2 separate regions of the Homo sapiens genome follow, and region 2 is linked to region 1. Evidence: fine-mapped expression QTL. A gene starts in region 1. The other region holds a variant in brackets. All regions are shown on one strand. Distances are between the middles of the regions.

Region 1 (4,258 bases):
ACCACTCCAGCCTGAGCGACAGAGCAAGACCTTGTCTCAAAAAAAAAAAAAAAAAAAAGCGCAGGAAGGAAACACACCAACTGCATGGCAGGCAGAAGGCTCCTTGGGGGGCACGGGAAGGGAAAGGAGGGATGGGGAGCCAGGCCTTTGGTTGTAAGTGTAATCATTTATTTCTTTTAAAAAAAGGACCTGAAGCAAAATGGCAAAATGTCCACATCTATTCTATATAGGTACAGGGGACATAGAGGACTGTTATATTTTCTTCCTTTTTTTTTTTTTTTTTTTTTTTGAGATGGAGTCTTGCTCTGTTGTCCAGGCTGGAGCGCAGTGGTGCGATCCTGGCTCACTGCAACTTCCACCTCCCGGGTTCAAGCAATTCTCCTGCCTCAGCTTCCTGGGTAGCTGGGATTACAGGTGCAAGCCACTACACCTGGCTAATTTTTTTGTATTTTTGATAGAGATGGGGTTTCACTCTGTTGGCCAGGCTGGTCTCGAACTCCTGATAGGTGATCCACCCTCCTTGGCCTCCCAAAGTGCTGGGATTACAGGCGTGACCCAACGCGCCTGACCTGAAATAAATATTATTTAATTAAAAAACTAAAAGCATTACACTAGAAGAAACAGACCAAAGAGAAATCTAAAGAGATCAGTTGGACAGAGGAAGGTGGTGGGAGGAGGGCCTCTCTTCCATTGGCCGGTGGGAGGCAGCAAATGTCAGATGGTGGATGGGGGTTTTAGAGGTGGGGGTTAGCATGAGAGGTAGGGCACGGCGATAGGGGGGGTGCTGTCCATGCAGAGGGAATAACCAGTGCAAAGGTCTTGGGGTAGGAGGCAGGAAGGTGCCTGGTGAGTTAGAAGAACAGCGGGTAGGCTGGATGGGGGGTGTGAGCCAGGGGGAGATGAGGAGCTGAAGTCAGAGAGCTGACAGGGGCCTTGGGTGCCAAGGTGAGGACTTTGCTTTTACCTGGAGTGAGGTACAGCTGGGGCAGGGCTCTGAGCCAGGAGGGTAGTTAACTGACTCAGGTGGTCCCAGGCTCTCTCTGGCTGCAGGTGAGAACAGACAGTAGGGGCAGGGATGGGAGCAGGGAGATCAGGCAGGAGAGGATGGAGGCTGGGCCAGGGCGTGGGCAGCGGAGGAAGAAGAGTTTAGAATGGAGCGATTGATTTTATACGTGGAGCCCACAGTTTGTGACGGATTGGATGTGGTGTGAAGGAAAAGAGAGGGTCAGAAAAGACTCTGAAGTTCTGGGCCTGCCATTCATCAAAATGGAGAAGTCAGGTGGGCTTCTTTTGCAGGAGGAGGGGAAGGGTTGATGGAGAGGGTTGGGAAGGGAGTTTTTTCAAAAGAGGCGGGGACAGCGTACCCTGGAGAGCGCTGGGGAGCCACAGCCCCGGAGCTGTGAGGTGGGACTCGCATTTCTGTGTGGTTGGGCCAGGAGTCCAGGACACCACCTGACTCTGACCTCTTGCAGACGGGGCGGGGGAGGGGGGACGCAGGTTATGGCGTCAGAGCAGGATCGAATCCAACTCTGCCGCCTACCTACCAGGTGACCCCAACAAGTCACTTCCCATCTTAGAGGCCGGGCTTCTCCTTCCGTAAAAGGACTGATTTTGCCCGTTCCTGCGCTGTCCCCGGGAAAAGCCCTTACCACCGAGTTAGTGGGACTCCCAGCACTGGGGTGATGAGCGCAAGGTCTCAGCACAGATAAGAGCCAGGGAGGCTGGATTCTGACTTGGTACTTGGCCTGGCTGACCAAAACTGGGAAGTCCCTAGAAACGGAGGCACCGGACCTCCTGGGACCAGGAACCCGGGCTCAGAGACTGGGAGAGGGAAGGAGGAGGCGGCCAACCGGCCCCACCCCTTCCCGCCAGCTTCAGGCCCCCTCCCCCATACATACACCTCGGTTTCCCAGCATCTCCAGTCCTCCCCCACCTTCGCCCCGGCTCTCAGGTTCCTCCCTGGGAGGTCCAGGAGCTTCTGGCCAGGGGCATAGTAGTTGCTAGGGACCCTTTTCTAGGTACTAGGGGAGGGGGCTCCCCAACCTGCGGGCAGGCAGCTGCCTCCACGATGTTTGGTTTTAATAAAGTCTCTTTGTTTCCTTCTCTGTCTCTCTGCCCCTCTGCTTTCCCTTCTCTGTCCAGTCCCTCTCTCCCCGGCTTCTCCCTCCTTCTAGGCCTCTGCGGCCCCTCCCCGCCTTCCCTCCCGGGCTGGGGGCGGCGCCGTGACGCGGCGGGGCGGGGGAAGGAAGGGGGTGTCGCTGACGCCGCGGCGGCCTCCGGCGGCTCCGGCCTTTTGTGCGGGCGGTTGGGTCGGGTGGGGGCGGCGGCCGCGGAAGGCCAGGCCGGTGCCCTGCGGGGACGCCCAGCGCAGCCCAGCCCCGCGCAGCCCAGCCCTGCCCTGCCCTGCCCTGCCCTGCGCCCGGGGCGCGCCCACCGCGCCGCATCCATGTTCGAGTAAGGACCGGGCGACTAGAGCTCAGGGACCGGGCGCGCGGGGGAGGCCACCGGAGGGAGGGGGCGCCGCGGGCTTGGGGAGGGGGCGGAGCGGCCGCTGCAGAGGTCGGGGGCCTCTGCACATGGCTCTGGCCGGGGCGATCGGGGTGGGGGCGGGGCAGGGGGCCCCCGGGCGAGGGGTGCAGCTGGGGAGTGGGGCGCGGACGCAGGGCAGGGCCCGGGGTCTGGGTCGCCACTGCCGGCCCGCGACGCACTGGGTTGCGGGGTTTGGCTGGGGGCCCGCGGGTTCATCTGGCGGGGAGGGCCCTCAGGCCTGGCAACCCCCTGCCTGGTAAGCCAGGGGTGAGCGCGAGGCCGAACTGGGGCTCCGGCCTGGGATGGAGACAGGATCGGGACCAGCCCAGGCCCACAGGCCGCGGAGCCCTGGGCGCGCCGGGAGTAGGCAGCCCCCTCCTGCCTGGGCCCCCTCCCACCGTCCTTGGCTGTTGCGGGTCTCGGGGCTGCCGGGGGTGGGGGCTTCCTGCGTCTCTCCAGGACCGCGTGCTTGAGGTCATGGAGGGCGGGGGGTCCTGTGTGCTCGGAATTGACTTCTTACTCCCCTTCCGGTCCAGGTGGGCGCATGTGCTTCCGACTGTGAATTGTCTTGCAAGTGTGTGTACGTGTGTCTGGGGCTGCTAGCCTGCAGCAGCTTTGGGCCTCTGATAGAGTTCCTGCGTGTAACTTAACCACTAATTCTGACCGCGGCTCTGTGTGTCACTGTAAGTTACCTGTGTGTGTCTGGGGCTCCAAATCTGTGGCTGTGAGCAGCTGGTTGTGTGCGTGTTGTGTCTCATTCCATCTGTAGCTCCCTGTGCAAATATAAATTACCCCTGTGTGTCTGAGTGTGACGTTGGAGTGTTTGTACATGTGTCTGGAGTTACCGTGTGTAGCAGCTCTGATCCTTCTTGGGCTGTGTGTGTTTTACCATTAATTCTATCTGTAGCTCCAAGCGTTGCTGTAAGTTACCAGTGTGCGTCCCATTGTGACTTAGTGGTGTGTGTACAAGTGTGCCTGGGGCTCTGGGTTCTACCATGACCCTCTGTGCCTGCATATGCCTGTAATTTAGCTCTGAAACGCTCTTCTTTTTTTTTTTTTCTTTTGAAATAGAGTCTGGCTCTGTCGCCCAGGCTAGAGTGCAGTGGCACGATCTCGGCCCACTGCAACCTCCTCCTGCTGGGTTCAAGCAATTCTCCTGCCTCAGCCTCCTGAGTAGCTGGGATTACAGGCGTGTGCCACCACGCCTGGCTAAGTTTTGTATTTTTAGTAGAGATGGGGTTTCACCATGTTGGCCAGGCTGATCTCGAACTCCTGACCTCAGGTGATCCACCCACCTCGGCCTCCCAAAGTGCTGGGATTACAGGCTTAAGCCATCGCGCCTGGCTTGAAACTCTCATTTAGCTCTGTGTGCCAATGTAAGTTACATTTGTGACATTGTTGTGTGTCTGGGGCTCTGTGAGTGTGGCTGTAACTTAATTTGATTCCATCTTTGTGTGAACATTCCCTTGTGTATTCCTTTGTGACAGTATTGAGTGGTGCCTAGGCCTCTCTGTGTACAGCTGAGACCCTCTGTGGTTTTGTGTGTGTGTGAACAGTGTGAGACCCCTTGTGGCTCTCTGTAGGCTTGGAACCCTCCCTTCTAAGACCCTGGGAGTACCCAGGGCACTTTGGAGGCAATAATGATAACTGACGTTGTCCACCTGTTACAGTTAGTATAGCATGTGCCACGCATTATTCCACTACCTGGCCACTGTGTCCTCGAGATCCA
Region 2 (4,512 bases), 32 kb before region 1:
GCGCCCCCAGGCTTGCTAGGATTAGGAAATTCCAGCCTGGCGAACTCTAGTCAGACCAGTTCTCTGCTCTTGAACCCTGTTAAGATGTTTATAAATGACAATGCGTGCACAGCAGGACATGGAAGCTCATGAGTGATTCTAGTTTTGCCCTGACCTTGTGATCTCGCCCTGACCTTCTGCCTTGTGATCTTTTGTTGCCCTTAAAGCATGTGATCTCTGTGACCCACACCCTATTCGTACACTCCCTCCCCTTTGAAAATTGCCAATAAAAACTTGCTGGTTTTATGGCTCGGGGGCATCACGGAACCTGCTGACATGTGATGTCTCCCCCAGACACCCAGCTTTAAAATTTATCTCTTTTGTACTCTTTCCCTTTATTTCTCAGACCAGCCGACACTTAGGGAAAATAGAAAAGAACCCACATTGAATTATCGGGGGTGGGTTCCCCCGATACTACATGTCATATGGTGAAACCACCTTTGTAAAAATTATAACTGAGAAAATTATGACAGTGAGAGATCTGACCTAACCAACTCCATCTTGCTTCTAACCTCCAAGCTGTCCTTGTTCGTTCCTGAGCATAGGCCTAACTAACTTTGGGAGAAACTCAGTTTACAGTTTAACTTTGAAGCAAAGATAACAGCCCTTTCCCTCTAGGCCGGGCATGGTGGTTCACCCCTGTAATCCCAGCACTTTGGCAGGCCGAGGCAGGCGGATCACGAGTTCAGGAGATCGAGACCATTCTGGCTAACATGGTGAAACCCTGTCTCTACTAAAAATACAAAAAATTAGCCAGGTGTGGTGGCGGGCACCTGTAGTCCCAGCTACTCAGGAGGCTGAGGCAGGAGAATGGCATGAACCCCGGGAGGTAGAGCTTGCAGTGAGCTGAGATCGCCTCCAGCCCGGGCAACAGAGCGAGACTCCATCTCAAAAACAAAAACAAACAAAAAAACCCAGCCCTTTCCTGAAACAAACCCTCTTCTTGTCTGGGGACCAGACTGCCTTTGTAGGATTAACAAAAGCCACAAGATTAGAGAGTATGGTTTAGGAGTCATGCAGCCAGGGGCCAGGGGTCACAAGATTTTAAACCTTCCCAATTGCTACTGGGGATAACATCACTATTGTAAAACCTAAGATTGGTGCTCGAGATATTTTTCAGACCCAGCACTCGATGGATCAGCTAGTGCCACCCAGATTGATAAACTGGGTCATCTGGTCCTGTGGTCCCCACCCTGGAATTTACTCAGTGCAGTTAGTCAACTTTGACTCCCTGTGATTTCATCTCTAACCCAACTAATCAGCACTCCCCACTACCTGGCCCCCCACCCACCAAATTATCCCTGAAAACCTCTGATCACTGAATTTTCAGGGAGATCAAGTTGAGTAATAACTCTGTTTCTCCCATGGCATGGCTGGCCCTGTGTCAGTTAAAGACTTTGTTTACTGCAATGCCGTGGTCTTTTTGTAGCAGGCAAAAAGAACCCATTGGGTGGTTACAATGGTAGATAACAGGGCCCAGGACAGAATTCCTGCTGGGTGCATAAAAGCTATTGTCATTACCAACACCATCATCACAAGAATCTTACAAACACTGCTGTGGGGCGGCAGGGAAGAGACACCTCTGTGCAGTCTTTTGGATGTTTGTCAAAATATACAATGACTCTAACTCAGCAAGTACCGCCTCAGAGGGAATAGTTATGATTTTTACATGAAAGCACACCATAGTAACATTTGCCTACTTGATTTTATTTTATTATTTTCTTATAGCTGCATTTTTTTGTTTTTCTAAATTTATAAAATAATATATAATTATTGTATGCAACATGATGTTTTGAAATATAGATACATTGTGGAATTGATAGGGACAGGAGGTAGGGAAATTCTGGGCAGAAGAGGCCAGGTCCATCAAGCTGAAAATCTTGATACCACGGCCCAAAGTGAGAACTTACATCCCTGTTTTCCCACTCAAATGTTGCCTTTTCCAAAACCACCCGTGGCTCACCCTGCCCCCCATCCTATGCCCATAAAAACCCCAGGCTCAGCCGGCAGAGAGAAGAAAAGCAGCTGGACATTGGAGACTATGGTTGGATGTTGGAGAGAAGCAGGCTGACTTCAAAGGGACAGCTTGACAGCGTAGCTTTGGAGAGGATGGCCAGGGATGGCCAAACTTCAGGGGACGATTACCTT[C/G]CTGCTCCATCCCCTTTTCAGCTCCTCTTCCTGCTGAGAGCCACTTTCACCGGCAATAAAATCCCCTGCATTTACCATCTTCAATTTGTTTGTGTGACCTCATTCCTCCTGGATGCCAGACAAAAACTTGGGTGCCATGAGTGTGGGTACAAAAGGCTGTCGCACTGACCCTCCACTGAGCTGTTAACACTTAAGCTATGCATGGATGGCAAAGCTAAAAGGGCACTGTAACACTTCGTCAGGGGCTTCAGGGGTCACAGCACCTTCCCCTAGACACTGCCGTGGGGCTAGTATGGAATTTGCTCTTGCCAGCACCCAAAAGCCCTCACCCTGTCTCCTGCACCCACTCACCTGTGCTCCCCTCCCCATGAGGGGTGGAACAACAAGCGAGTGGAGTTCGTCCCTGACAGCGCCCATGTACTCTAGTTCCCATCCAAGAAGGGGTCAGGGAAATATCCTGCTTCAGAATGACTAAATCAAGCTCATTAACATATGCATCACTTCACATTGTTTTGTTTTGAGACAGGGTCTCATTCTCTCACCCAGGCTGGAGTACGGTGGCACTATCGTGGCTCACAGCAGCCTTGACCTCTTGAGCTCAAGCCATCCTCCCACTTCAGCCTCCCGAGAAGTTGAGACTACAGACGTGCACCACAACACCCAGCTAGTTTTTTGTATCTTCTGCAGAGATGGAGTTTCACCATGTTGTCTAGGCTGGTCTCAAACTCCTGGGCTCAAGCACTCCTCCTTGCCTTGGTCTCCCAAAGTGCTGCGATTACTGGTGTGAGCCATGGCACCAGCCTTAGTTATCTTTTTTGTGTTGAGAAGACTTAAAATCTACTCTTTAAGCATTTGTCAAGAATACACCGTAACTACAGTCACCAGGTTGTACAATAGATCTCTTGAACTTATTCCTCCTAGCTACCTGAAATTTTATATCCTTTGACCAACATTGCCCCACTCCCACCACCTGGCAACCTCAGCCTCTGGTAACCAACATTTCACTCTATTTCTATGAGACAACTTTTTTAGGTTCCATATATGAGTGGGATTATGTAGTATTTGTCCTCTGTGCCTGACTTATTTCACTTAATATAATGTCCTCCGGTTCAACCTTGTTGTCCCAATTGACAGGATTTTCTTCTCTTTTATGACCAAATAGTATTCAGTTGTGTATCTCTACCACATTGTACAAATCCGTTTATCTGTTGATGAGCACTTCAGTCGCTTGACTATTGTGAACATTGCTGCAATGAATATGGCAGTGCAGATATCTTTTTGACATACCAATTTCAATTCCTTGTGATGTATACTCAGTAGTGGGATTCCTGGGTCATATGGTAATTTTATTTTTATTTTTATTGATTTATTTCTTTGGGACAGGGTCTTGCTCTAAAGCCCACTCTGGAGTGCAGTGGCATGATCATAGCTCATTGCCATTTTGACTTCCCAGGCTCAAGTGATCCTCCCGCCTCAGCCCCCTGAGTAGGTGGGACCACAGGAATGTGCCACCACACCCAGCTTATTTATTTATTTATTTTTGAGACAGGGTCTGGCTTTGTTACCAAGCTGGAGTGCAGTGGTGCAGTCTTGGCTCACCGCAATCTCCATCTCCCAGATTCAAGCAATTCTACTGCCTCAGCCTCCCAAGTAGCTGGGACTACAGATGTGCGCCACTATACCTGGCTATTTTTTGTATTTTTAGTAGAGACAGGTTTCACCATGTTGACCAGGCTGGTCTCTAACTCCTGACCTCAAGTGATCTGCCTGCCTCAGCCTCCCAAAGTGCTGGCATTACAGGAGTGAGCCACTGCACCCAGCCACTAATTTATTTTTATCTGGAAAAGAAAAGAGGTTCATTTGGCTCAAGGTTCTACAGGCTGTACAGGAAACATGACATCAGCATCAGCCTCTGATGAGGCCTCAGGAAGCTTCCACTCATGATGGCAGGTGAAGGGGACCTGGTGTGTGGAGATCACATGGCAGGAAGCAAGGGAGAACTATTATTACTGTGGGGTCAGCACCAACACATTCATGAGGGATCCGCTCCCGTGAGCAAAACACCTCCCACTAGGCCCCACCTCCGACACTGGGGATCAGTTTGCAACCTGAGATTTGGAGGGGACAAATATCCAAATTATATCAGGTGGACAGTGTGGCTGAGGCTTTCCCTGCTTCAGACGGAATTGGACACAGGCTCTGGGAGAGAAGATACAAAGTGCCGAGACCAGCTCAGTCAGGGAGACCCTAACCCAGCGGCACTAGAGGAATTAAAGACACACACACAGAAATATAGAGGTGTGGAGTGGGAAATCAGGGTTCTCA

What was found. PIP is the estimated chance that this variant, and not a neighbour inherited with it, causes the effect. A credible set is the group of variants that fine-mapping cannot tell apart.
Region 2: its variant is the best candidate, but not a certain one, in a credible set for the expression of GRAMD1A in whole blood (INTERVAL, PIP 0.51).

The regions. Positions count from the first base shown.
Region 1 is chr19:34,998,033-35,002,290 of GRCh38, forward strand. GRAMD1A (GRAM domain containing 1A) reads left to right here and starts at 2,291. Exons shown (of 20, transcript NM_020895.5): 1 at 2,291-2,454. The coding sequence starts at 2,447. RefSeq lists an enhancer at 1-351 and silencers at 2,126-2,505, 2,776-2,905.
Region 2 is chr19:34,965,655-34,970,166 of GRCh38, forward strand. It overlaps LOC124904699 (a long non-coding RNA gene), which reads left to right. Exons shown (of 2, transcript XR_007067236.1): 2 at 2,037-2,266. Among named protein-coding and RNA genes, the nearest start is that of ZNF792, 3.7 kb to the left of the region's middle. The variant C/G (reference allele first, on the strand shown) is at 2,188.